7 linked regions of the Homo sapiens genome follow. The protein of the gene in region 6 purifies or fractionates together with the protein of the main gene of each other region. This does not show direct contact. Each region holds a gene or a part of one and is shown on either strand. Other genes may lie near its edges. The genes, in order: PDXDC1, POMT2, IMMT, TSPOAP1, CARD19, CD244 and CAND2.

Evidence for each region.
Region 1: the proteins of CD244 (region 6) and PDXDC1 purify together in Homo sapiens (affinity purification with mass spectrometry; 3 studies listed by BioGRID and IntAct, with this or other methods). This does not show direct contact.
Region 2: the proteins of CD244 (region 6) and POMT2 purify together in Homo sapiens (affinity purification with mass spectrometry; 3 studies listed by BioGRID and IntAct, with this or other methods). This does not show direct contact.
Region 3: the proteins of CD244 (region 6) and IMMT purify together in Homo sapiens (affinity purification with mass spectrometry; 3 studies listed by BioGRID and IntAct, with this or other methods). This does not show direct contact.
Region 4: the proteins of CD244 (region 6) and TSPOAP1 purify together in Homo sapiens (affinity purification with mass spectrometry; 3 studies listed by BioGRID and IntAct, with this or other methods). This does not show direct contact.
Region 5: the proteins of CD244 (region 6) and CARD19 purify together in Homo sapiens (affinity purification with mass spectrometry; 4 studies listed by BioGRID and IntAct, with this or other methods). This does not show direct contact.
Region 7: the proteins of CD244 (region 6) and CAND2 purify together in Homo sapiens (affinity purification with mass spectrometry; 3 studies listed by BioGRID and IntAct, with this or other methods). This does not show direct contact.

What each region holds. Positions count from the first base shown.
Region 1 is NC_000016.10:15,026,857-15,030,864, reverse strand, and holds part of PDXDC1 (pyridoxal-dependent decarboxylase domain-containing protein 1), read right to left. Parts: intron 1,988-4,008; coding exon 1,899-1,987; coding exon of another isoform or gene 1,833-1,898; exon of another isoform or gene 1,060-1,832; intron 915-1,059; coding exon 809-914; intron 1-808.
Region 2 is NC_000014.9:77,282,478-77,286,485, forward strand, and holds part of POMT2 (protein O-mannosyl-transferase 2), read right to left. Parts: intron 3,156-4,008; coding exon 3,004-3,155; intron 2,565-3,003; coding exon 2,473-2,564; intron 1,397-2,472; coding exon 1,320-1,396; intron 1-1,319. UniProt on the Homo sapiens protein: Transfers mannosyl residues to the hydroxyl group of serine or threonine residues. Coexpression of both POMT1 and POMT2 is necessary for enzyme activity, expression of either POMT1 or POMT2 alone is insufficient.
Region 3 is NC_000002.12:86,163,955-86,167,962, reverse strand, and holds part of IMMT (MICOS complex subunit MIC60), read left to right. Parts: intron 1-1,318; coding exon 1,319-1,455; intron 1,456-4,008. UniProt on the Homo sapiens protein: Component of the MICOS complex, a large protein complex of the mitochondrial inner membrane that plays crucial roles in the maintenance of crista junctions, inner membrane architecture, and formation of contact sites to the outer membrane.
Region 4 is NC_000017.11:58,321,873-58,325,880, forward strand, and holds part of TSPOAP1 (peripheral-type benzodiazepine receptor-associated protein 1), read right to left. Parts: intron 3,857-4,008; exon of another isoform or gene 3,842-3,856; coding exon 3,662-3,841; exon of another isoform or gene 3,578-3,661; intron 3,131-3,577; coding exon 2,939-3,130; intron 1,674-2,938; coding exon 1,596-1,673; intron 1,510-1,595; coding exon 1,426-1,509; intron 1,168-1,425; coding exon 1,078-1,167; intron 905-1,077; coding exon 782-904; intron 541-781; coding exon 436-540; intron 1-435. UniProt on the Homo sapiens protein: Required for synaptic transmission regulation. It probably controls the recruitement of voltage-gated calcium channels to the presynaptic membrane, and modulates neurotransmitter release.
Region 5 is NC_000009.12:93,098,772-93,102,779, reverse strand, and holds part of CARD19 (caspase recruitment domain-containing protein 19), read right to left. Parts: intron 1-4,008. UniProt on the Homo sapiens protein: Plays a role in inhibiting the effects of BCL10-induced activation of NF-kappa-B. May inhibit the phosphorylation of BCL10 in a CARD-dependent manner.
Region 6 is NC_000001.11:160,842,290-160,846,297, forward strand, and holds part of CD244 (natural killer cell receptor 2B4 isoform 1 precursor), read right to left. Parts: intron 1-4,008. UniProt on the Homo sapiens protein: Heterophilic receptor of the signaling lymphocytic activation molecule (SLAM) family; its ligand is CD48.
Region 7 is NC_000003.12:12,816,833-12,820,840, reverse strand, and holds part of CAND2 (cullin-associated NEDD8-dissociated protein 2), read right to left. Parts: coding exon 2,965-4,008; intron 756-2,964; coding exon 660-755; intron 1-659.

The sequences.
Region 1 (4,008 bases), on a different chromosome or scaffold from region 6:
GCAGTGGGGAGTGAGAACCCTTGTAGTGGAAAATCGAGAGTCACAAGACATCAAAATATAGGAATTCCAGCCTGGCCAACGTGGCAAAACCCCATTTCTACAAAAAATGCAAAAATTAGTCCAGTGTGGTGGCTCATGCCTGTGGTCCCAACTCCTCGGGGGCTGAGGTGGGAAGATCACTTGAGCCCAGGAGGTCAAGGCTGCAGTGAGCCATGATCGCACCACTGCACTCCAGCCTGGGTGACAGAGCAAGACCCTGTCTCAACAACAACAAAAAAGGAATTCATGTGATGACTTTTTTTTTTTTTTTTTTTTTTTTTGAGATGGAGTCTCCTCTGTCCCCCAGGCTGGAGTGCAGTGGTGTAATCTCAGCTCACTGCAACCTCGGCCTCCCAGGTTCAAGTGATTCTCCTGCCTCAGCCTCCCAAGTAGCTGGGACTGCAGGTGTGTACCACCATGCCTGGCTAATTTTTTGTATTCTTAGTAGGGGCGGGATTTCACTATGTTGGCCAGGCTGGTCTCGAACTCCTGACCTCAGATGATCTGCCTGCCTTGGCCTCCCAAGGTGCTGGGATTACAGGTGTGAGCCACCATGCCCGGCCAATTCAGGTGACTTCTGAATTCTCATTCTGATTCTGGTAAGTTACATGGGAATGCTAATCTACCTAAATTTAGCCCAAAAGAAAAGAAAATGCCCCTCCAAAAAGAGCTGCTAATAACTCTAGGAGAATGGAGTATCATAAGGGCAAGCTAATCTACCCAGCAGCCCCAGAACAAAAGCAAGGGATGTCCACCAAGCCTGGTTTACCTGCTGCGGTCATCAAAGGGCTGAACCGCAAACACGTGCCCTCAGCTTCCAGATCCATGACTGTGAGGCCGCTTGCAGGCACCAGCTGCTTCAGCTGTTCTCCCAGCTGTGAGGAGGACACAATGAACACCCTCCTGTAACAAGGGACTCAGACGTCTTCAGGACCCACCCTCATCCCCTCGGCCCCAGACCAAAGAGCCTCCTGGAGAGCTGATTCCTGCTCTTTTGACTGTCTGATTACTTAGAGCAGCTTTTTAAAAACAGTAAATTTTATGGTTTTTTCTTATTAATACAAGTTCATTGTAGAAAAATTTAGGAAATACAAGTAAACAAAAAGAAGAAAATAACAATGACCCACAATATATTACTAAGCGACACCCACTGCTGACATGTGGTCTGCCCCCAGCGTCTTTTCTCCTAGTGGCGGGCAGGGAGTTGTAGTTGTTGTCATAAAACATGCTACTTGACACTGCTTAGTAACCTGCATTGATTCATTTCGTTTATGACCAGTTCCTTTCTGCTTGAGACACTCAGCTCTGTGGTCTCTCACAGCTGTGCTGAGCCCCAGCATGGATGTACCAGGACTTATCTGCCAACCCTGCTAGGCTGGGCGTGTCCAGCATTGGCTAGAACTGCTGCTGCCGCCATCCCACACTGTTCACAAGACCCTTCAGACTCAAATCCTAGAGCTGCTATTCAGTGCCCAAAACGCTATCAAAGTGCAGGCCTGGCTCCACACTGCCAGCTGCAGATGCTCGGCAGACTCTGCCTGGGGCTCCCGGCTGTGCTGCCCAGGCTCACCAGAACCCACCGCAGCTGCCCTGCAGCCCACCTTTTGCCTGTTGTCTCACAGCCTTATACAGCAGCAAGGAAAGTGAGGGAGCAATGCCAGAAGGACTTGCCAGAGGTGACCCAGCTCGTGAGGTGGTAACGCAATGGGGAACAGAACTCCAGAGCAGGCCCAGCACTGGCAGGGCGGCTCCTCCTGTGGGCCTCAGTTCCCATACACGAGCACGCGTCACCCTCACCAGCAGGTCGGATGGTGATGGACGGGGACCTGAAAGGAAAGGGGGGTGACTGCCATTCTCACCCAGCGATTCAGCGCGTCACACGAGTGCCTCTCCCGGCCGACTCCTGAAGGTGTCATGTTGGGCACTGGGACGGCTTTAAACACCGGATCTGACACCAAAACACAGAAAGGGAGTCACTCCCAGAAACACGGCTGACCAAAAAAAACACCCTCCAAACCCCACATCATTCCCATCCCAATATTAGCCCCAGGGCACTGACTCGTATTACTGAATTCTCATGTATTATCTGACAGAAGGGCTACATTTCTTTTTCCTCGTGATCTATGTAACACTTGAATACATTCACATAAGACAGAATTATTAATTTCATTTTTGAAAAGGTTTGCTTTCAAGGGATTTCAAGGGGAAACAGCAATTGTTTTAAGTTACTAACTAGTTTACCAAGCACCGTGCGAGGTCTGTGAGTGCCACGATCATCTAACTAGGCCTCACAGTGGGTGCCAACCCGTGCCAGGCACAGAGCCCGACACTTGGGACAGAAGGCAGGTAAGGTTTCTGTCATCTTGGAGCTTACATTTTAGTTGAGGAAACAGACCATAAAGAAAGAAAATCACTCCATGTGGTTGTTAGTGTCACAAGTGAAGCTGGGGGCTCTGATAGAAAATGATGGAGTCCCCTCAGGCACGATAGGCAGGGAAGGCTGAGGATGTGGATACTTAGTGGAGACCGAAATGGTGAGGAGGAGCTGGCACCAGAAGAGAGAAATGTGTGTAAGACAGAGGGAACGCCGAGTGTTAAGCCCTTGCGGTAGGAAAGGGCAGAGTGTTCTGGAGCGCGGAGAAGACTGGTCTGACTGAGGCACAACGAACAAGAGGGAGAGTGGAAGGGGGGAAGGCAGAAGCGAATTCGGGGCAGAGTGTGCAGGCCTCATGGGGCATGGGAGAGCCTGGCCTTTGTTCGACCGAAATGGTAAGATACCCAGGGGCTCTGGGCAGGGAAGTGACACTGATACGGGAGTGCTGGGAAGGGAAGAGCGTGGTCCCTTTAAATGACACAGAAGCGGGGAAGGGAAGTGCTGGGGAGAGAAAGGCGGGTCCCTGGCTAGGACTCTACCCCCACGGACCTAGGTGAGGACAAGCACTCCTGCCTTCCCCCAAATGTTGCATTTCCCAAGACCACGCTGGCCCACCACACCACCATCCTGGGCCTATAAAAACCTGAGACCCTAGTGGGCAGACAGAAGTGGCTGGATGGCCAGAGGAACACATTGGTGGAAAAAGACACAAGCGGCTGGTCATGGAGAGCAGGCCGGCAGAAGAGCACCCCGACAGGCCCCGGCAAGCCAGCAGGCCATCAACCACGGGGACGAGGCGGAGTTTGGCCAGGGCCGCTGAGCGGCCCAACTCCAAGGGAAATCTGTCTCCCTTCTGGCTCCCCCATCAGCGGAGAGCTACTTTCATTCAATAAAACCTTGCACTCATTCTCCAAGCCCACATGTGATCCCATTCTTCCGGTACACCAAGACAAGAACCTGGGATACATTAATCCCTCTGTCCTTGTGATAAGGAAGGGGGTCTAAGTGAGCTAAAACAAGCTGCCTACAGACGGCTAAATTAAAAGAGCACACTGTAACACATGCCCGCTGGAGCCTTAGGAGCTGTAAAACATTCACCCCCAGATGCTGCCATGGGGTCGGAGCCCCACAGCCTGCCCGTCTGTATGCTCTCCTAGAGGTCTGAGCAGCAGCGGGGCACTGAAGAAGCGAGCCACACCCCCATCACATGCCCTGCGAGGGGGACAAGGGAACCTTTCCGGTTTCAACACCATGTGACTTCCACTTATAACCCTCTCTGCCAGGTGGAGAATGGTCTGGAATGGGCTGTGTAGAATGTATGAAAGTCAGAGGTCAGTTGACAGGGGACAATGGCCAACCAGGTAAAAAAAGAGTGGTGCCCTGGACTAGACTGGTGGCACTTGGGTCATTCTTTAAGATACAGATTCCTGGGCACAACCTATTGACTCAAAATATGTGGGAAGTAAGACCCACAAATCTTTATGTTCAAGCAACTCTTTCTTAGCCATTCCAGCACTGGTCCAGGGACTGGCATTTGGGAACCCCTGGTTTAATCACCGCAAACTATCAGCAAATTGCTAAGGCGTTTCGGACTG
Region 2 (4,008 bases), on a different chromosome or scaffold from region 6:
TAAGAAAGCTCTCATTACTTCCCTTTTCTTCTCTGACTCTACTTCTTAGATAATGAAAGACAAAATGAAACTCGTAGATTTAGTCTTAAAATTTGACCCAGGCCCAGAATGATATTCTGACTGACAGGCACATGTTCAAAAGAGCTATGTCATCAGGCCACAGTGACAGCTACAAGCAGAGAGTCAGAAAGGAAGTGACCCAGAGATGCTTAATGTCAACTTATCACCTCCCAATGCGCAAAAATGACAAAATTTGAATTTTTAAAATTTAATCTGGTGAAATAAGTCAACTATATGTACTGAGTACTGCTTACATAATCACTTCCAGGGAAGTCCACTTGACAATGGCTTACCAGGGGAAAAATAACAAGTGCTACACCTCCCTGCAATGCTGTGGGTAGAGTGATAATCACATATCTGGCTTGAGATAGTGATTCTTAAACATTATTCCTGCAGAACACAGGTTTTCCATAAGCCAGAATAAGGGGGTCTTCCACTAAACAGCAGGACTACAGCAGGGGAAAATTTAAGCTAGTGAGTAGAATTTTCTCAATTTAAAGATTTCTTCTCTGAATTTTTCTTAAACCTTTGATGCTACAACTGCTGTCAGCTACTAATGATAGAGAGTGCAAACAATGTCTTAGAAAACCTTAAAAAGAATCAATCATGCCCTGCCTAAGCAGTTTCTGTCCAGGAATATGAGTGGGCTCGTGGCTGGGATTTCATGCTGCATATAAACAACACACTCAAATTAGCTATCCATCCTAACTGATCCTGATTTCATATGATGGAATGAACTATCAGTATCTCATGATCTTCAACCAAGAGCACTATGATTTTCAGGGGCTCTGCCACTTGGGCAGATTCACAAATCACTTAGAGGTGAAGGAGTGTAGTGGTAACTAGCAGTAACTCTAAAAGCCTACCAGCCTGGCTCTGAGGGCTGGATCTACCTCTTACACTTAGCTGTGTGACCCTGGGCAAGTTCCCTGACCTCTTTGTATGTCAGTTCCCTCTCCTGTAACTGGGAATGATGGCAACCTCCATATGATTGTAATAAGTATCAGATGAGTATAGTGCTTAGCGTAGTGCCTGGCACATGAGCTGTACAAGCAGTCACTGGTATCACCATCATCACCACCATCCTCATTCTGTGGTGAGGGAAATGCCTTTGAGGATCACAGAAAACCGTAGTAAAGATGCTTTCAAATTCCTCCACAAGGGGGAATGGATCTGTAGCATGGCATTGACTTGTGATCCAAATTCATGGCTGCCCAAAAGCTCTTAGAGACGCCATGAAATGAGAAGGGGACACATACCCGGATCATGACCATGTGGGATTCCAGCAAGATCTCAGGAAAACTGGGCTGTAGCACATCCAGGCTGATGTTTGGCACTAGGGGAAAAAAATGCAGGAGAAAAGCCTTTGTCATACATTCTTTCCTCAGTCTGTCCATGGTGTCCACATTCCCACCAGAATCCAAATGCAGCCTTGCTGACAAGTTCACAACTGTTGAGGAGACAGAAGAAAGCTTGGCCCAATTCTTGATCATTTACTTAGCTGTATGAAGAACTCATCAGGCATTCTAAGAAATGCAAAGGAAATAGACAACAAGGTTTCACCTGCTTGGTGCTCCAACAGCTCCCAGCACCATTGCTTTTCACTGTGGTACTGGCTCAAATGCTGCTCTCCTATTAGGCATAAGGGACAGCTGCACAGCCCCCGAGTCACTGTGGCCCTTTGAAGGGCCTGGGAATGAGGAATAAATCATTCTGGACGCCTGGAGCAGCTGCTGTCGGGATGGGGACCAAGTCTGTCTCCTCGCCAATATGTCCACAGGGCCCCATGTGGTTCCTGGCATACTTGATAAAGAGTTGTTGAATTAGTTGATTAGTGGGTTTGGCTAGATTAGGTGGGAAGAAGAACAAAATGAAGGCACACATAAGCTTGAGGTGGGTAGTTTAGGAAAACAGATGATGAATCCAAATACTTATTGAGTTGAAGCTGACAACGCAGTGGAAATATCAAATTGGAGCTTGGGTGTAGAGATGTGGGGCACAGATCAGGGCTGTGGCAGTCACTTTCTATAAAAGCATTGGCTGGATATGTGGGGGGGCGGGGGAGCGACTCTACACTGAGGCATAAAGGGAAAGTAGCAGCTTGCTCCAAGCCTGGAGGCTGGGGAGGTGCCCATGGTGCAGGGGAGAGAGGAGCCCAGAGGAAGACGAGACAGATGGATCTGCAGATGGCCACTGGCCACTTTAGGGAGAGGAGTTTACGGAGGGAGTGGATGAGAAGGAAAAGGAGTATGCTATGTAGGTACAGACAACTCATAGAAAGAGAGTGTTAACAAGGAACAAACAGCAGCAAGTTGAAGGGATAGCACAGTTTACAAACGCTTACTTTTCTAAGATAAGGGTTTCTTATAAATGCTTCCCTCCAGAGCCAGCCCAGAAAGTGACCTCACTCACACTTGGGATTGATATGGTCCTCCACATTCCAGATGGAGTTGAGGGTTTCTTTCAGGTATGGGGTGCAAGTAACTTCCAACTGCTCCCAGCCCCTGTGAAAAGCAGAAGTCACAGATGTCTCTCAGAAGACGTGAAATCCACCAGAGAGTGACACTGTCTTCTGCTCTTAAATCCACAGGCTCCTTCTCTTTTCCACATGGTGGCCATTATTTCTTCATGTTCCATGTTGGACAACTATCCTAGGATAGTCTAGCATACAGTATTCCCATTTTAGAAAAAGACATAGACCCAGAGAGTTATTAGCACCAGCCAGATGTGAAAATGTTGAACTATCAGAACACATAAAACACCGAAGCTCCCCCGGAGTTCTGTGCTCCATAATACACCTGATATCTACTCTCCCTCCATCTGCCACTAAGAACAAGCAGACAGCAGGTGAACACAGGAAAACAAAAGCTTCTGGCATACTCCTTGTAGAGTGAAAGGAAAATCAGGACCCTCGATTGGGACAGCAAAACCCTAGAGACTTACCACTTGGGCAGAACCTTTCCCGAGGAGCCCAGGACACAACCTGTGACCAAATGGATGAAGCGAATTCGACTTCTCAGCACTTTGATCCGGTTTCCAAATTTCCTGTTTACGACCTCAATCCGCCAGAAATCATTTGAGTCCCCTGTTCCATTCTGCCATAAAAGCCAAGAAAAAAATACAAAGAAAGTGAGGGGACTTTAGAGAAAACGTGTCAGAAAGGGAAATGGCCACCCAGATGCCACCATGTTATGAAGGTCAAAGACCAAATTAGGCTCAATGATAGAGATGGGCAAGGTTACAAGAAGGCCAAAGAAATATCCCAGGTGATTGGCATTGTCCCAAAACTCACTATTACAACCAAAAAACAGTAGTATGACTCCTGGAACCAGAAGTCCAGGAGTCCAACTCTTCACTTCATAGAACTAGAGTTCAAGTTCTAAATACCTGTCTTTGCCCTTCAACCAAACTCAAGACATCACTCTGAGCCAACAGAAACAGATCTGGGCCATTTGCATCCATTACCTTGGCTATCTAGGTATTCACTCATCTAAGCCAGAAAGGTCTGGCCTGGCTATTGCACTTTGGAAATTAAGACATGTATGTCTAATTCTTCTCAGAAGATGCCCACAAAGAAGATTAGAATGTTCACAGTCTTGACCTAGCACAATGTGGAATGAGCAAACAGAAAGAGGGCTGGGAAATCCACCTGAAGGCCAGAATCTGTATACAGTTTTCCACTAGTAGTTTTTGTCTTCAGTTACTCCCAAAGCCATAAGTACTCATAGAGCTTTTATTTATTAGCTGCATCTCCTTGAGGTAGTAAAATACAAAAGCTATGGATAATATCCCTCTGCAGAACAGGGAAATGATACTTAAAAATAAAGCTAATGAGAATTTGGGATCTGGCAAAAGATAAACATACATGTTGTTCATCTGGGGTCATATTGTGGGTCCTTGGCTTCTATGTCCAATGTGATTTTAAAAGAGATCCAAATAGTATTCATA
Region 3 (4,008 bases), on a different chromosome or scaffold from region 6:
TGTTTAAAATGAAGAAAGCTGATGGATTTGTTGAGTTTATAGCCACAATATGTAAAAGGGGCTATAGTGTCCTAAACCTTGTTTCTCCCATTTGAAATACATTACCCTTCTTTAAATAATTTTGAAAAAAAAAAACACTTTTTATTTTGAAAAAGTTTAGATATACAGAAAAGAAAAAGTAGGCTGGGCACGGTGGCTCACGCCTGTAATCCCAGCACTTTGAGAGGCTGAGGTGGATGGATCACGAGGTCAGGAGATCGAGACCATCCTGGCTAACACGGTGAAACCCTGTCTGCTAAAAATACAAAATATTAGCTGAGCGTGGTGGCAGGCACCTGTAGTCCCAGCTACTCAGGAGGCTGAGGCAGGAGAATCGCCTGAACCCAGGAGGCGGAGGTTGCAGTGAACTGAGACGGTGCCACTGCACTCTAGCCTGGGCGATAGAGTGGGACTCCGTCTCCAAAAAAAAAAAAAAAAACAAAAAACAAAAAACCGGGCACGGTGGCTCACGCCTGTAATCCCAGCACTTTGGGAGTCCAGGGTGGGCGGATCATGGGGTCAGTAGATGGAGACTATCCTGGCTAACATGGTGAAACCCCGTCTCTACTAAGAAATACAAAAAAATTAGCTGGGCGTGGTGGTATGCACCTGTAGTCCCAGCTACTCGGGAGGCTGAGGTAGGAGAATGGCGTGAACCCGGGAGGCGGAGCTTGCAGTGAGCCGAGATCGCGCCACTGCACTCCAGCCTGGGCGACAGAGCGAGACTCTGTCTCAAAAAAAAAAAAAAAAAGAAGTGTAATAAAGCTTCATAGATTTATCATCCAGACTAAATTATCAGTATTTTACCATGTTTTCTTTTTTTTTTTTGAGAGAGTCTCGCTCTGTCGCCCAGGCTAGAGTGCAGTGGCATGATCTCGGCTCACTGCAAGCTCCACCTCCCAGGTTCAAGCGATTCTCCTGCCTCAGCCTCCCAGGTAGCTGGAACTACAGGCACCCGCCACCATGCCTGGCTAATTTTTGTATTTTTAGTAGAGACGGGGTTTCACCACATTGGTCAGGTTGGTCTCAAACTCCTGACCTTGTGATACGCCCGCCTCGGCCTCCCAAAGTGCTGGGATTACAGGCATGAGCCACTGCGCCCGGCCTTTACCATACTTTTAAGTGAAACTTTGATTCCCTAAATTTGAGTCTCATGTATTTTGTTCCTTTTTAAATTTTTTGGGAAATGCAATGGAAGACTAGATAGGAGAACAGCAAAAGTTTAAAGTCATTTATGGGGGTAGGATTTGTTTTTTAACTGTTCTTTTTTTTTTTTAAGCTCTAGCCAAGAGCTTAGAAGATGCTCTGAGGCAAACTGCAAGTGTCACTCTGCAGGCTATTGCAGCTCAGAATGCTGCGGTCCAGGCTGTCAATGCACACTCCAACATATTGAAAGCCGCCATGGACAATTCTGAGGTGAGCCCAATGAATGATTAGAAGTGTTCTGGCTGTCATGACTTGGAGGACAAAAAGAAAAATCGAGGGTGGAGAGAAGTGTAATATTTAACAGACTGCTTTCTTCCGTATGATATCGGCTTTCTCTCACTAGGGGAAGATAGTCTGGAATAATTAATCTTTTTTTGTTATTGTTTTGAGACGGAGTCTTGCTCTGTCGCCCGGGCTGGAGTCCAGTGGTGCGATCTCGGCTCATTGCAACCTCCACCTCCCAGGTTCAAGCGATTCTCCTGCCTCAGCCTCCCGAGTAGCTGGGATTACAGGCTCCCGCCACCATACCCGGCTAATTTTTGTACTTTTAGTAGAGACAGGGTTTGCCATTTTGGCCAGGCTGGACTGGAACTCTTGACCTCAAGTGATTTGCCTGCCTCGGCCTCCCAAAATGTTGGGATTACAGGCGTGAGCCACTGTGCTTGGCCTTAGAGTAATTATGTTTAAAAAACAAACTGAAAAAAGCCTTTAAGTTTTTTAGAATGAATTTTATACATTGTGCTTTACTATATCTTACAACACCGATGCAGCGCAAGAATTAGTTCAGATTTGCTTTCATATTTTAATAGCACTTAAATATTTTTGTTGTTTGCTTTAAAATTGCTATTTCCATAGGTAAACTTTTTAAGATACTTCTCAAACTTCACATGCAGTTTTAAGAAATAATACAGAGAGCTCTCATGTTCCCTGAAACACCTGCTATTTTAAATGTTTATGATTATTTATGCGAAACACTTCAAAGAATGAAGTAATAACATTGATTTTTCAAAATTTAATACTGGGACTTAATACATTATTTTATAATTACATTAAGTTATTCAGTATGTATAAATGTATCTCTATTCCAAGTCATTTAAGGAGTAAATTAAAGTAAAATGCATAAATTATTAATCTTAAGGATCAGGATCATACATGGTCAGTAAAGTTACTTTGCCATCATAATTGTAGTTTTAAAAAAAATTTTACACACACTTTACATTGTTTCAGTCGTATGTACTTATATTACAAAAGAGTTTAATTAGACCTCTGATGTTAGTAGCAAGAAACTACAACCTTTGAAATTTTAAGGAAAATTCCATTTTATTCAAAGTCCAAGAAAAATACTTAAATATCAGAGTTCAGTCAGCAAAGTGGAAACCACCCAGGAAATTTAATTTGCTGGTTACCGATATGGGAAGGCTAGAAGTTGCGTGATGTAAGGGTGTTGGGTTCAAACCCAAGTAGACCAGTATCCCTCAGAAGGACACGGATTGGAAGCTTTAAATGCCATGTTACTACTTGGGTATAAGGGTACACAAGGTGGTATTTCATCTTCCTAACGCACATAATGTGTAGCACATGGTGATTAGACAGTGTAAAATCTATTGCAGTCAAGATTTTACAATCTAATGGTAGCAGTTAACAGATGAGAGTATTAGCTAATGTACAAAATAATTGGAAAAATGTATGAACACATTTTGGAATGTTAAGAATGAATTCCAGCTTTTGTTTTTTCTAGTACAAGAAGCTACAGGTGCACATGTAATTTCTAATATATACTGAATAACTTTCACAAAGCAGTGTTTGTGAAGAGTTGGATTTGGTAATACTAGGATTTAGTTTGGTTGTAGGGGAATCTGTGTCTGTTACAGGGTAGGTTTTCCTTGGACTTCTGTAAGCAGGAGTACCTTCAACAAGGGTGATAAATTTTGGCCCCCAGATATGTCATTGACATTTACATGCTTTGTAATTCTATTTGGGTCAGTTCATGTGGCCCAACTCAGCATCCATTCCTTTTTTTTTTTTTTTGAGACAGAGTCTTGCTCTGTCACCAGGCTGTAGTGCAGTGGCGTGATCTCTGCTCACTGCAACCTCTGCCTCCCAGGTTCAAGCAATTCTCCTGCCTTAGCCTCTCAAGTAGCTGAAATTACAGGTGCCCACCACCACACCTGGCTAATTTTTGTATTTTTCGTACAGAGAGGGTTTCACTATGTTGGCCAGGCTGGTCTCGAACTCATGACCTCAAGTGATCTACCTGCCTCCACCTCCCAAAAGTGCTGGGATTATAGGCGTAAGCCACCATGCCTGGCCCCAAATCAGTATACATTCTTGATGTATTTTATTTTCAAGATGACTAAAGCGGTCCAGGCGTGGTGGCTCATACCTGTAATCCCAGCACTGTGGGAGGCTGAGGCTGGTGGATCATTTGAGGTCAGGAGTTCGAGACCAGCCTGACCAACATGGAGAAACCCCGTTTCTACTAAAAATATAAAATTAGCTGGGCATGGTGGCCCATGCCTGTAATCCCAGCTACTCGGGAGACTGACGCAGGAGAATCGCTTGAACCTGGGAGGTGGAGGTTGTGGTGAGCCAAGATCGAGCCATTGCACTCCAGCCTGGGCAACAAGAATGAAACTCCATCTCAAAAAAAAAAAAAAAAAAAAAATGACTAAAGTGGGAATTCACTGAAACATCAACTTTATTTTTCGCATCATAAGATATACTTTGCAAAATTTTACATAGAACATTCTTTTTTTTTGGAGA
Region 4 (4,008 bases), on a different chromosome or scaffold from region 6:
AAGGCCCGACAGGATCGGGTTCTTGTCTACTCCCACCACGCTGCCCATCCCTTGCTGTATTCTAGCCACATTGGTCTCAGGCTTCTTCAGCTCTTCCCTGCCACAGAGCATGTGCATGTCTACACCTCCTGGCTGGCAAGGTCAATTGTCACCTCCTCAGGGAGGCCTTCCCTGATGACCTCTAAAGTGGCTCCTCACCCCATCCCAGTCACTTTGTCACATCACCCTGTTCTTCTCCACCACTGTGCTCATCAGTGTCTGAAATCAGCTCACTCCTGGATGCTAATTTGCTGACTGCTCAGGGACCTGGTCTTTGTTCCCCACAGTCTCCCCGACGCCTAGCACAGTGCCGGGCACACAGTAAATGCTTGTGGAATGAGTGAGTGGCAAAGCTGGTGTCCAGCAGCCTGCCAGCTTCCCTCACTGCCGCCCCACCTGCTGCAGTCTCCGGACCTCCTCCTGCTTCTCCCGTAGGCTGAGCCGAGCCTGTTCATGCTCCACCTCCAGCTGCTGCCGCCGCTGGGCCACCTCCCGCATGTGCTGAAACACAAGATCTGAGTCAAGGCCAGAGCCCCTACTTGGCCATTTCTAGAGAAGATCTAAGATGAGGAAGCCTCAAACACCATTTGCTCCAGATTCCTCTATTACAAAGGAAACTGAGCCTGGAGCAGCTCCAGGCCCAGGCCTCAGAGCTAGTGCCCCTCACTAAGAATATTCTGCTGTCCCACTTGCTCCCCATGCCAGGGCCCAGCACCCTCTCCCACCTGCACCATCTCCTCACCTTCAGCACTTGCTCCAGGCTCTCCAGCTTGCTCTGCAGGCCCTGGCTCTTGCGAAGGGCTGAGTCCCTCTCCTGTGTCACCCCCAGGAGCTGGCCCCTCAGCTCCGCATTCTCCCACTCCACCTGGCGAGGGGGCAGTGACAGGGAGTTGGGTGGGTGAGCCTTGACCCACCAGCACCCTCACAGGGGGAACAGTACCCTACCCCTGCTCAGGGGTGGAGGAGAAAGCCCCTTGGCTGGGGACCGGGGCAGTGGTGGGAGCACAGGTCTCCACAGCACCTGGGCGGAAGTGGTACCTGCTCCTTCTCTGTGGCTCTCCCACTGAGCCGGGAGTTCTCCTCCACCAGGCGGGCATTCTCATTCTGCGCTTGTCTCAGCTGCAGTTCCTGAGCGGGCAGAGGAGCTCTCAGGAGGGAGCCCAGCACCCACATTCCCCCTCTCCCCACACAGAGGACCCTGCCCTCCTCCCAGGCAAGGCCTTCCTCCCCTGCTGGAACCTGCACCAGCCAGGAAAGGAAAGGAGCAGGAGGGAAAATGTGTTCTTGAGGGCAGCAGGGGTGGGAGCAGAGCTGAGAGGGAGCCCACCACCTGGCTGGCCGGGGTGAAGGGAGGAGCTGGCCTCTGGGTTGCCCTCAAGAGCTCACCAGCTCCTCACATCGCCTCTGCTTTTTCCGGGCTTCCTGCTCCAGGCTCTCGCATTTCTTCCGCTTCTTGCTGAGCTCCGATTCCTGAGGGGTCAGAACCAAGTGCTCCTCATGAGGGAAGGTACATCTGCCCACAGCAGGCTGCCTCCAGCCCTTGACCTAGGACTTACCAGCTGCTGCACCCTCTGCTCTTTCTCTGGCTCCCCTAGAATCACGGGTAGGTTGTCCGCATCCTCCTGGGGCGTGGCCTGGAAATGCCCAGGGGCAAGGGGCTGGCACCTGAGAACAGGGCCCCAGGGCAGCCTGCCCCAGCCCAGCCTGCCCAGAGCAGGTTCCCACCCCATCATTCAGCCAGCAAGAGATCCCTGCCTAGCAAGAGCAAAGAGGGGTACTGTCTGCCCACCCACCTCCCATTGTCTCCAGCTGATGTGTAAGTACAAAGGCTGCACCCCTGTGTCCTGGAGCCATAAGTGCTTTGAGATCCTGGGACCCACGTGTGCCCTGGGAGATGGGTCCTTTATCCAGGCCAAAGCTTTCCCTTTTTAGCTTCCAGCAGCAGCCCTGCTCTGCACTCAATAACTGTCCTGGGTGTCCTTCAGCGACTGGCAGAGAACTAGGAGGCTGCCTGGGCCCCCGGGGATGTGGTGTTCCCCAAGATAGGGGTTCTGTATCATCCAAATCTGGGCTTGGCCTAGAGCAGCGCAAGTCCAGCCAGACCCTTCTCCTGGCTTCCCCCAAGCCCACCCTACCACACCTTCCGATTATCCGTGCAAACTTTGGGGGAGGACAGGTCTTGATGGGAGGGTGCATCTCCCTTCCAGGGCCAGCCAGGGAGACAAAATCTGAGCAAGAAGCCTCCCCCCACCCGGAGGTCTTGGTCACTATCAGATCACTGCCTGGTCTCTCCTCCCAGCCCTCTTCCCAGAAGGAGGAGGACCTACTTGCTGCCTACCTAGGATGATGGCGAGAAGCCAGACCCTTAAGTTCTGGGGGTCCTAAGCGGGTCCCTGGCCCTCGAGACAGGGGCTGCCTAAGCCCCCCGCTCAGTGAGGGTTGCCTGTACCTGGAGCCGGGGCGGACGCACCGCCGCCCCCGGGTAGCTGGGGCCAGGCCTGGCCAGCCAGGCGGGCGCTGACGGGGGCGTCCCCGCTCTACGGCGGCGGCGGGAGGAGGCGGCGCGGGCTGGGCCCCGGGCGGCTGCCAGGACAACCAGGGATTTGCGGCCGGGCCGTACCACTGGCAGCGCGGCAGGGGCGGCCGGCCAGGCCCCGCTGGGCGCAGGCCTATGGAGGGCGGAACCCTGGAGCCCCCAGGGGAGGGCACGGCGCAGGTACGAGCACGGGAGGCTTGGAGGTGGACCCTGCCCAGGACGGGAAAGCTCCCCAGCCCCTGGGAGTGCGCACACCACCACTGAGTCCTTGGGGTTCTGAGCACGGTGCAGGGGAGATCCCGGTGGTCGTTCCCCCCACCCATCTGCACGCACCCACACACCTGCCCTTGCGCCGGCGCTCACCTCTCCCGGGGCCCCGGGAGCAGGCGCCCCTGCTCTGGCCTGGAGAGCAGGGCCCGGGGGCCAGGACGGCGGGAGCGGGAGCGTCTCCCGCTGGTTGCGCAGCGCGATCTGCCTCTGCAGCCGCAGCACCTCCCGCTGGGACTCGCGCAGCAGCCGATCGAAGTCCCGCACGTGGAGCCACTGGGGACCCTCCTGAGGTTGGGGGACAGGGACAGGGAGGGGACTCAGGCCTAATCCTTGCCCGCCCCATGCCATCCCCTGCAGAGCCCTTCGCCTTGCTGGAGGGGCTCCGATGCGCGAGACTGTGCACACCCTCCCATGGGTACATGCCTGGTTACATGTGCATGCGTATGTGGCCACATGCTCCCGCGAGCCCCTATGCGGTCATTCTCAGTAACTTATTTCTTGGGTGCTCTCAATGTGCCCAGCACTGTGCTAAATACCTTGTGAACATCCCTTCACACAGGGGATGTGTGGATGCATACAGCCAGACCCACCGGCAAACAGCCTCAAGCCTGGAGCACAGAAATGCCCAGGTCTGGGACTCATGGCTCCACCCCCTTCTCCCCTCTCCCACCTGGGCCGTTGCCAGGGGAACCTACTCCCAGCAACCTCCACCCTCCCTTTCATTTGCGTCTCATTAACATCTTGTCTGCATCCCACAACAGGCAGATGGCCCTGTGCAGGGCTGAGCTGGAAGAGGTGACCAGGGCCTCCTCGCACCTTGCCCACCAGAGTGAGCCTGGCCTGCAGCTCCCTGCACTCCCGCTGCAAGGCAGCAATCTGCTTGTCCTTGGCCAGCAGTGCACTGGCTGTCTCACTGAGGTCCCGGGCTCGCTGGCGGGCTAGGGCCTTCCGACACAACTCCAAGCTGGTCCCCGGCCGGGGCAAGGGGGCACTCACCTAGCCAGAGGAGGGGTAAGGCCAATGGTCACCTGAGGGCTGGGGCACTTCTCCCACTCCTCATCTCCTCCCAAAGGAGGAGTTAGCATGAAAACCTAGGGGGGTAGCCACCTGCTTCCACCTTGACTGGGGTCTCAGAAAACCAGCAGCCTCACTCTACCCCATCC
Region 5 (4,008 bases), on a different chromosome or scaffold from region 6:
ATTCGATGCAATCCCTATCAAAATCTTAAGTGTTTTTTGCAGAAATAGAAAAACCCACCCCAAAACTCATATAGAATTTCAAGATACCTGTATAGCCAACAACAAAAATCTTAAAAAAAAAAAAAAACAACAACAGGGTTGGAGGATTCATATTTCCTGCTTTCCAAACTTAGTGTAAAAATATACAATAATGAAAACAATGTGGTACTATCATAAAGACACACATATGGGTCACTGGCATAGAATAAGAGAGTCTAGAATTAAACCCTATTTTTAATTAAAAGAGTGGAAAAAAAGAAAGTGAAAAAACAGTTCACATAAATGGAAGAAATATTTGCAATGCATATATCTCATAAGGGATTAGTATCCTTACTCCATAAAGAACTCCTACAACTGAACAGCAAAAGACACAGAGAACCCAATTCAAAAATAGGCAAAGAACTTGAATAGACATTTCTCTAAAGAAAATATACAACTAGCCATCAAGCACACAAAAAAATGCTCATCAGGCCAGGTGCAGTGGCTCACACCTGTAATCCCAGCACTTTGGGAGGCTAAGGGGAGCAGATGACCTGAGGTCACCTAAGGTCAGGGGTTCGAGACCAGCCTGGCCAACATGGAGAAACCCTGTCTCTACTAAAAATACAAAAATTAGTCGGGCATGGTGGTGCGTGCCTGTAATCCCAACTACTTGGGAGGCTGAGGCAGGAGAATTGCTTGAACCCAGGAGGTGGAAGTTGCAGTTAGCCGAGATGGCGCCACTGCACTCCAGTCTGGGAAACAGAGCGAGACTTGGTCTCAAATTAAAAAAAAAAAAAAAATGCTCATCATTAGTCATTAAGGAAATTCAAATAAAAACCACAATGAGATATCACTTCGTACTCATTAGGATAGCTATATATTAATATAACAAATGTTGGTGAGGATATGGAGAAATTCAAACTCTTTGGCATTAGTGGTGAAAATGTAAAATAGTGCAGCCACTGTGGAAAAAAACAGTATGGCAGGTCCTCAAAAATCTAAACATAGAATTATCCTGTGATGGCCGGCACGGTGGCTCACACCTGTAATCCCAGCACTTTGGGAGGCAGAGGCAGGCAGATCATGCAGTCAGGAGATCGAGACCATCCTGACTAACATGGTGAAACACAGTCTCTACTAAAAATACAAAAATTAGCTGGGTGTGATGGCGGGTACCTGTAATCCCAGCTACTTGGGAGGCTGAGGCAGGAGAATCGCTTCAACCCGGACGGTAGAGGTTGCAGTGAGCCAAGATCATGCCACTGCACTCCAGCCTGGGCGACAGTGAGACTCCGTCTCAAAAAAAAAAAAAAGAATTACCGTGTGATCCAGAAATTCTACTTCTAGGTATGTACCCTAGAAAACAAAAAGCAGGAACTCAGTCGAGGGTGGTGGCTCACACCTGTCATCCCAGCACTTTGGGAGGCTGAGGTGGGCAGATCGCTTGGGGTCAGAAGCTCAAGACCAGCATGGCCAACATGGCGAAGCCCCGTCTCTACTAAAAATACAAAAAGCTAGCCAGGCGTGGTGGCACTCGCCTGTAGTGCCAGCTACTCAGGGGGCTGAGGCACGAGAATCACTTGAACCCAGGAGGCGGAGGTTGCACTAAGCCAAGATCACACCACTGTACTCCAGCCTGGGCAACAAAGTGAGACTCTGTCTCAAATAAATAAATAAATAAATAAATAAATGCAGGAACTCAAATGGATACTTGCACACTGGTTTTCATAGCAGCACTATTCAAAATAGCCAAAAGATGGAAATAGTGCAAATGTTCACCAAAAGACGAATGAATTATCAAAATGTGGTATATACCTATGTACAATGGAATATTACTCAGCCCTAAAAAGGAAGGAAATTATGATACGTGGATGTTACAACATGGACGAACCTTGAAAACATTATGCTAAGTGCAATAAACAAGGCACAAACGGACAAATATTATATGATTCCAATTATATGAAGTACTTAGAGGGGTCAAATTCATAGAGACAGAAAATAGAATACAGATTACCAGGAGGTGTGGGCAGAAGGAGAAAGGGGAGTTATTGTTTAACGGGTACAAAATTTCTGTTTGGGATGATAAAGAAGTTCTGGAAATGGCCAGTGGTGATGACTACACAACACTGTGAGTGTATTTAGTATCACTGAAGTGTACACTGAAAAAATGGGTAAGAAGGTAAATGTTATGTTTCCATATATTTTCTCACAAAAAATGTAAATGGATAAATAAACTCTGGTTTATCCATACAACGAATATTATTCAGTGCTAAAAAGAAATGAAGGCTGGGCGCGGTGGCTCACGCCTGTCATCCCAGCACTTTGGGAGGCCAAGGCAGGTGAATCGTTTAACCTGGGAGGCGGAGGTTGCAGTGAGCCGAGAGTGCGCCACTGCACTCCAGCCCAGGCAACAGTGAGACTCTGTCTCAAAGAAAAAACCAAAAACAAAAACAAAAACAGTGTCATCATGTTGAACACAGTGGGGCCCCCTCTTGGGTTCACTCCTTGAGGCACAGACTCAACAGACTGTTTTACTTTGTCATGTCTCTTTCCAGTTGCCACTTCCTCCTGGCTGGTCTTTCTGTACCCCAGAATGTGGACCCACCCCAAAAGCAGCCATGCTCCGTGGGGCCCTGTGCAGACCCTACAGACTGAGGCCCAGGTGAGAACAGCCCGTCTCAGTACGCTCGCCCTGTGCGGGGCTGGGGACCACGGTGATGGGCAGATCCATCCTCCAGGGGCTCACAGTGTAGGGGTGCGGGCTGGCATTCACCAAGCAAACCCACAAACGTATCCTTAACCCCAGAGATACCTGCCCTCCAGAGAACAATAGGGGGGCCATCCTGGTTCACAGGGCCCCTGATGATGCCCACATTGAGGCCATCAGCCACTCCATCATCTGGCTGAAGCCACTCACCGTGGGCCGCGCAGGGAGGCAGATGGCTGGGGGCTGGAAAGGCTGGCTCAGCCCTCACCTGCACTGAGTCCCACAGCAGCCTATGCGGACTTGCCAGCAGCCCCATCATGGTGAGGAAGCTGAGCACAGGGACGTCAAGTGACCTGCCAAGGCCACATGGACAGGCCCAGCTGGGCAGTCTGGGTCCAGCGCCTGCAGCCCTCTCGTTAAAGAACTAAGATGAATTAGCCAAAATTCACAGAGCAATCCCATATGTCTGGCACTCTGTGAGCCCTACGTCACCTACAACCTTCATCCTTCCAACAGCTTTGCAACATAAGGACAACCACCAGCCCCATTTTCAGGTAGGGAAACTAAGGCACAGTGAGAAGATAAGGTACCTGCCCAAGACTGCAACCAGATATGAAGTGACAGATCAAGATCCAGGCCCAGGCACAGCCATGTTGAGGACCACCTCTTGATATTCAGACGTTCTGCCTCTCTAATTAACATGGAAATTCACTGTAATCAGCTACAGCAGTCTACTCCCTGCCAGTCCAAAAGCACGCCCAAGGCTGTCCTCTCCAGCATTGCCCACTTGGCTGAGCACCCAGTAGGTGCTCACTAAAGAGTTCTGCAGGCCGGACGCGGTGGCTCACGCCTATAATCCCAGCACTTTGGGAGGCCGAGGCAGATGGATCATGAGGTCAGGAGTTCAAGACCAGCCTGGGCAACATGGTGAAACCCCATCTCTACTAAAAATACAAAAAAAATTAGCTGGTCATGCTGGCACACGCCTGTATTCCCAGCTACTCAGAAGGCTGAGCCAGCTACTCAGGAGGCTAAGGCAGAAGAATTCCTTGAACCCAGGAGGCAGAGGTTGCAGTGAGCCAAGATTGCACCACTGCACTCCAGCTTGGGTGACAGAATGAGACTCTGTCTCAAAAAAAAAAAAAAAAAAAGAGTTCTGCAATGTATGGTCCAAGACCCAGGGGCAAGGGCTGTAGGTGGACCGTGGCCAGCATCCTGTAGTGGCTTCCTCCTGCCCTGCAAGCCGCTAACCAGGCAGAGCCTCCGCTGCTGCAGAGCCA
Region 6 (4,008 bases):
CCCAGGCTGGAGTGCAGTGGCGCAATCACAGCTCACTGCAGCCTTGAACTCCTGGGCTTGAGGTGATCCTCCCATCTCAACCTCCCTAGTAGCTGGGAGCACAGGTGCTAGGGAGCTTATTTGTTTACTCTTTGTAAAGACAGCAGTTTGGCTTGAGAGGATAAATTCTTAACCATGATGCTATAAATACCACATCTAAGGTGACTCCCTCCAAGCAGTGCTGAGGCAACTACTAATGGCAAGTAGTGACTGTTGGAAATTCTGAATGGTCAGGCCCAGGAAGACTAACCGTCCAAGCTGAACTCATGGCCCCTCAACCATCCTCTCACAGAGCTGAATACATAATCCTCTCTCGTGGCACTTGGTTCATTGGATTTTGGTCATTACTTATTGATGTTTGCCAGTTTTTCAGTGATCAGAAAGTCTCCACAAAAATTTCTCCCTAGAAAACAATTTTAAAAATAAAACTACACTTCCCAGGCAGATCCCAGCACTTGCCTCTCAAAGAATCAAGATGAAACCTAATGAATATGGGGGTGTGACAACCTAGAGCAATTCTGTGCAGTCAGTGTACAAAACTGGAAGTTCCTACAGCCATTTTTAGTAATAAAGCTATGTGGCATGGCCCAGCAGGTGCAGGAAATTAAAAAGTCTCTCTGGGTGAGTTGGGGAGGCTCAGGGAGGATTTGGAAGAGAAAATAAGAGATGGGGAGAGTTTTACAAGTGGCTCCGTTAAAATGGAGGCTATTAAGAAGAGAGCAATTGAGACAGAGGGGTTTTTATATGTCCAGTGCATTATGAATGCAGTCTCTCCAAGCCACAGCTTCACCCTGGCATTTTCTCAAGAGACTAAGTAAATAATTAAAGGACTTGTAATACTATTTGTTTGATGAAATATGTTTCTTTGATCTTGATGCTCCTAAGACTAAAACACATAGGTTCCCATTTATATTTATATGACTTGTACTGGCTCTGCCCATTAGCAAACCAAAAGCTTCTCAAAAGCAGAGACTGTGCTGTGCATCTCTGTGTCTCTGTCTCCTACGATCCTAGCACTATTTATAAGAACAAGTCAACCTACCAAATATTGCACAAAGACCCTGAGAACAAAGGTGAATGGAAAAAATCATTACTAAACCTACAAGGAGGACATATACTGTCTTCATCAATTATTCAGTCCTTACTGAGTCCCACTGCAATCCAGCCCCTGAAGAGGCAGGGCCTCTTCATGTATAAGGCATGATTCCTGACTCCAGAGAGTTTGTGATCTGGAAACAGAACACTTTCATTCTACAGCATCCCCTTAATTGTTGAGATAAAAAATCATCGAAGGAATTCTAATTATGTAATGAAAATCCAGGTTAAGACATGCTAACCAATCCTCCCACTAAAAATAGCTAGAAGAAAAATGAACAACATGTAAAAGCACATTGTTAAAGTTATCAGAGAGTTTATAAAGCAGTGAAAAATTATGGGGCCAATATCTGGAAGAAGGAAATTCAGAGAGGTGAGATCAGCATTTCTGACTGTTGTTCCCTGGAGGCATCTTCTGATTCCATAAATGGCAGCTAAAAGGCTGAGAAGCTGAGCAGAGCTCACAATAAAACTCAAGGAACTAAGAGAACATGAAGTTCACGTCCCTCCTATTAGAAAGCGGGTATACATAAAATCCATCAGTGTTGAGGTTGGTACCACAGAGGGCTATACCCAAAGAGTAAGAGTGAACGAGAAATGAACAGCCCTCACAGGAACTGAAGCTCAATTTTGAATCATCACAACCCTGGATTGAACTAATGATCTGGAATCTCTGGTAGCCCTAACCTGGCTGCCAACTAGAGGCAAATATAAGTTATGACTAGAGGAAAATAACATCAACCAGAGCATTAAATTATTCCTAGAATGTTTCATACACAATATCCAAAGTGAAGTATAAGAAAAGGAAACATCTCCAAAAACCAACAGAAGAATAGAGACAACAGAAACCAACAAACAGGGCATCTACATAATAGAGTTGTCAGTCATAAACTTTAAAGTAATCATGTCTAATATGTTCAAGGAAATAAAACATAAGTTTAAGAATTTCAGCAGAGAACTAGCGTGATAGAATGCAAAAATACCATGTCCTTGCAATGTGACTTTACAGCTCCTTCTGTTATCAAGAAATGGGGTTCATTTCCCTGTCTCTTGGAACTGGGCTGGTCTTCATGATGAAACGCAGCAAAAATGATGTTCTGCTAGTTCTAAGCCTAGATCTGAAAAGGCATTGCACATTTCTACTTGTTCTCTTGGAACCTCATCTGGCTGACCTGTGAACAAGCCTAAAATAGCCTGCTGGAGAATAAGATATCACATGATACAGAGATAAGCCAACACAGCTAAGGCCATTCTAAATCAGCTAGCCCTGGCCTGGTGCGGTGGCTCATGCCCGTAATTCCAGCACTTTGGGAGGCCAAGGCCGGCAGATCACTCAAGGTCGGGAGTTCGAGACCACCCTGGCCAACATGGTAAAACCTCGTCTCTACTAACGATACAAAAATTAGCCAGACATGGTGGCACACACTTGTAACCCCAGCTACTTGGGAGTCTGAGGCACGAGAACTGCTTGAACCCGGGAGATGGAGCTTGCAGTGAGCCGAGATATCATGCCACTGCACTCTAGCCTGCATGACAGAGCAAGACCTAATCTCAAAAAACAATAAAAAATAAATAAATGAATCAGCCACCCGTGGCCAGTCTGGCAGCTGACCACACATGCATGACTGATGCAAGAGGAAACCAAAAGAACCACCTAGCTGAGCCCAGCCCAAATTGCCAACTAGCAGAATCACTAACTAAATAGGTAGTTGTTTTAAACTACTGGATTTTGGAGTAGGTCATTATGCAGCAATAGTTACCTGAAATTGGATTTTTTTTAAAGAATTCAATGAAAATTACAGAAATAAAATGTAAAATAACTGTAAAACAAACTCAATTGAAAGGTTAAAAAGGCCATTTAGATGCCATTGAAAAGAGAATTAGAAAACTGTTATAAAATATCCAGAGTGAAGTAAAGAAAAACAAAAGGATAAAAATACACAAGAAGGAGTGTAAAAGATATTTGAGATATAGCAAAAACAAAACAAAACCCCTAAACTAAGTGTAATTGGAAAGCAAGGAGACGAGAGAGGAAAGAGGAACTAAGCAAAAGAGATAAAAGATAAGAATTTCCCAAAACTGACAAAAGCCATCAAGATAGATTTGTAAAATGTGTTACAAACCCCAAGCAAGATCAAAACAAACCGACAAGCTGGGCACGGTGGCTCACGCCTGTAATCCCAGCACTTTGGGAGGCCCAGGTGGATGGATCACCTGACGTCAGGAGTTTGAGACCAGCCTGGCCAATATGACAAAATCCCATCTCTGCTAAAAATGCAAAAATTAGCCAAGTATGGTGGTGCACACCTGTAATCCCAGCTACTTGGGAGGCTGAGGCAGGAGAATCACTTGAATCCAGGAGGTGGAGGTTGCAGTGAGCCGAGATCACGCCACTGCACTCCAACCTGGGCAACAAGAGTGAAACTCTGTCTCAAAAAAAAAAAAAGAAAAAAAACAAACCAATGAACAAAAGACAACCTCTCAATACATCAAAAAAATTATGGAAACCAAAGATAAATAGAAAAATCGTAAAATAGCCAGAGTGGGGGAAAACTAAATTCCCTTCACAAAACAAACAACTTAGCTGACATTTCAGCAAAAATAATAAAAAGCAGATGATGGAATGGTATCTTTTTTTTTTATTTTTCCATAGGTTATTGGGGTACAGGTGGTGTTTGGTTACAAGAGAAAGTTCATTAGAGGTGATTTGTGAGTCGGTGCACCCATCACCCGAGCAGTATACACTGCACTCTATTTATAGTCTTTTATCCCTCACTCCCCTCCCACTTTTCCTCCCAAGTCACCAAAGTCCACTGTATCATTCTTATGCCTTTGCATCCTCGTAGCTTAACTCCCACGTATCAGTGAGAACAT
Region 7 (4,008 bases), on a different chromosome or scaffold from region 6:
CTACTGGGCTGCCCTGCCTAGATGTGGGCTGAGACTCCAGTGTGGCCCAGTGAGGGGCTGCAGGCTCCAAGCTCTGAAGGGGCGAGGGCTCTGCCTTCCTAGGAAAAACCCAGTGGTCCTGCCGAGCCCCAGAGGGAGGTCTCAGTTCCTCTCCTCCCAGTGAAGGCTGCTTGGGCTCCTCAGGCCAGAAGGCCCCTCAGACAGAGGGCGATCTAGTGGACAGGCGGGGCCGGGGGGAGCACTCTTCCCTGCCCCACTTTGGGGCCCGCAAAAGCTAAGGCATGTGAGAGGCTGGTGGTTTTCCATTCCCAAGAGTCTATATGTTGATGAAGCATCTTCTCCCTCAGTTGCCCATGGGCTTCCAGGACAACTCTAGAAAATGCAGATAATAAGAGTTTCTCACGCCCATTTGACAGATGAGGAAAGCGAGGCTTAGAGGTGTGATGGGCATGCCACACCCACCCATGATTGAGTGGCAGTAGGAAGGCAGGGATGTGAACCCAGGCCTTTTAACTGGAGGGCCAGGCCCTGCTGCCCATCATGGGCACACCTCCCGGGTCTCCCATTGCCCTTGGCTATTGGGTAGTAAACATCAGCCCAAGCTCAAGGACTGGGTGGGGGCACTGAACAAGGTGGAGGGGCAAGAGGTAGGTGCTCACCGATGAAGCTCTTCAGGAGGGGGTCAATGGGATGGGGCTGGTCCGAGATAAGGAACTTGACCGCTGTGATGACGGTGCTCCGGGTGTGTGGCCGACCTGCAGGACAAGAAGAGGTGAGTTAGTGAGGGGCAGGGGCCAATCCTGGAGGCTCACAGATCAGAAGGTGCTTAGGCTCCTCCCCCTGCTTCCCTGGAAAACAGAACTGTACCCCCTCCCCATCTCTGGGAAAGTGGATTCTACCATTTCCCTTGGCAGCCTTGAATCTCCCCTCAATTCTTCCTGCTGCAGCTGAAACAGTAGGACTGCCAGTGCTCAGGTAACACCACAGGCTGCAAACAGGGAACCAATAACCAAGACAGGAACTGCTCCAACAAAGACCTTCCCTCAGGCCTTGGGATTTTTCAGACATGTTATCTCAATGAGTCCTAACAATGATCCTATTAATAATAAAGTAGTATTAAAAGAACCAATAAAATCACCAATAAAAATCATCTCTTTGACATATGAGGAAAGAGAGACTCAGAGGGTTTAAGTTCATGTCTAGGGCCACACAGCAGATCCAGAATTCCTGGCTGGGCCCCTCTTCCTGGGGCTGCGTTCTGGCTGGTGGTCAGGGAGGCCTAACAGAACTCGGATCACCTCCAGGCTCGGTCACAGAGAGCTTGCTTACTTGTGCTTTGCCGCTTGCTTTCTGAGTAGAGAAGCCCAGTAAAGAGGGGAAGTACATTCCCTTAATGAAGGAAACGAATGGGTGGACGCTCCACCTGCGTCTGAATCTCTCCTCAGTGGCTCGCCCCCTTTGCTCCCTGCCCAACCCCAGCACAATGCAGTGAATGGGCTAAGGTGTTTCCACCCCACAGGCTTTATGTTCAGCCTCGAGGAAAAGTTTACCATTTGGTGCTAAGGCATGAATGAATGGAAGAGTTACTGAATTCAGACTTTCAGCTTTTACCTCTTTCCCTTGCCAGCCTGACTGGCTCCCAGGAAGATTTAGGGTGGCTGATGAAGACAGGCACAAGAGAGTAAGATTAAGTGAACTGAAAACAAGAACAAGGCCAAGGACGACTGAAGGCAGGGAGGTGAGAAGGAGACTAGCAGGAAGATGTACAGAGAGCATCAATAAGGAAGTCCCAGGAACCTACTAGAAGCAGACCACTCATCTGGCTCTAAGCTTCCCAGCAGTTGGTGCTAAAAAGGAAATGTGACCGGGTGGCTGGTTCAACAGTGCACGTGAGATAGAAACAAATAGGTGTTTAGGCAAAGCAGGGCTCCTCTGCATCTTAACACTCTCGTCTCTCAAGGTTGTGTGATGTAATAGACAGTGTCCTCAACAATGTTCTTCCATCCAGTCCTGAGGCCAGACAACTGCTTCTTACGAACCCAGCAACCCAAGAAGGCCTTAACTGAAATCACTAACCTACCTAGTAACAACAGCAGCTCTTGATTTACTCAGTATTAATTACTGTAGGTACCACATAGGTTACCAAACACTGTACCTGCATTCTGTCAAGCAGAGCATCCACTGGTTCTGTAAGGGGCCAGCTGGCCAGCTCGAAGCCCACTGGCCTTTCATTCTGGGAACTCTCATTTTCCTAGGAGCCTGATGACCCTACCTGTCTGCTTTCCACCTCCTGAAGCTAAGACACCTGGTGTGCCAAAACACGACAAGCCAAAACGCCTGCCCCTCCTGGTTCTTGCCCAGCCCTCTCCAAGCCTCGGGGGCATGTCAGCCTGTCCCCGTCTATACTGACGTCTGCTCTTGGCTCAGGCTAGCCGAAAGAGCTGACCCTCTGCAGGCTGCAGTCTACGGCTACTGGGAAAACTGTTTTTGTTGACCTCTGTGTGGAGCACTAAGCTACTGTCCACATCAAGGATTATGAAGTTGGCATCATGAGGTTTTTTGTTTTGTTTTTTTTTTTGGTAGAGGCAGGGTCTCACCATGTTGCCCAGGCTGGTCTCAAACTCCTAGGCTCAAGTGATCCACCCACCTCAGCCTCCCCAAAGTGCTGGGATTACAGACATGTGCCACCATGCCTAGCCAACATCATGAGATTTTTAAATGTATTTGTTGTAGGGACCAATCAAGGACTCTGTCCCTTCTATCCCACAGTCCCATAGGAGGAAGGCTTTAAGTCTCAGGTATCACTGTGTGTTCCTCTGTAGCTTCCTTGCCTCTGTCGTATAGATACCGTGATTCTTGTATCCAGTGACTTGAAATAGCTCACTCTGCCCCAGCTGCCTGGATGCTCAGTGGCAAACTGCCCACCTCCGAGGTGGGCTGCCTTGCCCACACCTGTGTGCCTACCTGCAGCAAGCTGCTTCCGCAAGCGGGGCAGAAGGAACGAAGGGTTCACAAGGACCAGCTTCCCAATGCACTCGGCCACCACCCCCCGGGTGCCCTCCTCAGCACCCTCGCAGCGCTGGAACAGCAAGGCCCAGATGTCCTCGGCGTAGGGCTTCAGGCTGTCAGGCTGGGCGGCCCCCAGGGCCTCCCTGAGTGAGTGCAGCAGCAGGTACTGTCGTCGGGGCTCAGCCTCGATCTGCTCCAGCAGGAAGGGCAGGAAGTCGGGCAGGCTGCCAGCACCCACACGGCCCAGTGCATACGAGGCTGCAGCCCTCACATCCTCACTGGGTGACCCCAAAGCTTCCAGGAGCACCGCCTTCAGCTCCCGCTGGTGGCCTGGCCCAGCCACCTGACCCACCTCAGCCAGCGACAAGAATGCCAGGACCTTGACCCCCGTGCTGGAGTGGGGCGACCTGGCATCGCAGACCAGGCGACTGGCTGTGCTTGCCGCCTCTTGGGGACAGGCAGCTGAGAGGGCTGCCACACACCGGGCCAATGAGTGGAACACCTGCTTGTGCAGGCCAGGCCCACCATCCACAGCCTGCTCATAAACAGGCGCAGTGAGCAGGCTGATGAGTTTGGCATAGTCCACACACGGGGGACGGGTCCCTACCAGGGCCTGCAGGAAGCCTTCAGCAGCTGCCAGAACCCCGGCTGGCAACAGGGGCGAACGCAGCAGCCGCAGCAGCTCTGAGAGCACAGGGCCACTGACCTCCACCAAAGAGGCTGGCTGGGCCTGGGTCACTGTGGCAAGGAAGTCCACAGCCAGCTGGGCCACATGCATGTCGCTCTCGTTGACCAGGGCAGGCAGCTCAGCCAGCACGGCCTGCACGGCAGACGGTGGGAGGCTGAGGCCCTGGCTCTGGGCCAGGGCGTCCAGGGCTGCCAGTGTGGCCAGTCGCAAAGCCCGCTGGTTCTTCCGCAGGAATGAGGCCAGAATGTGCAGTGCCTCGGCCAGGATGGGCTGTAGGTCAAGCTGTAGTGGGGATACGGCCACCAGCGTAA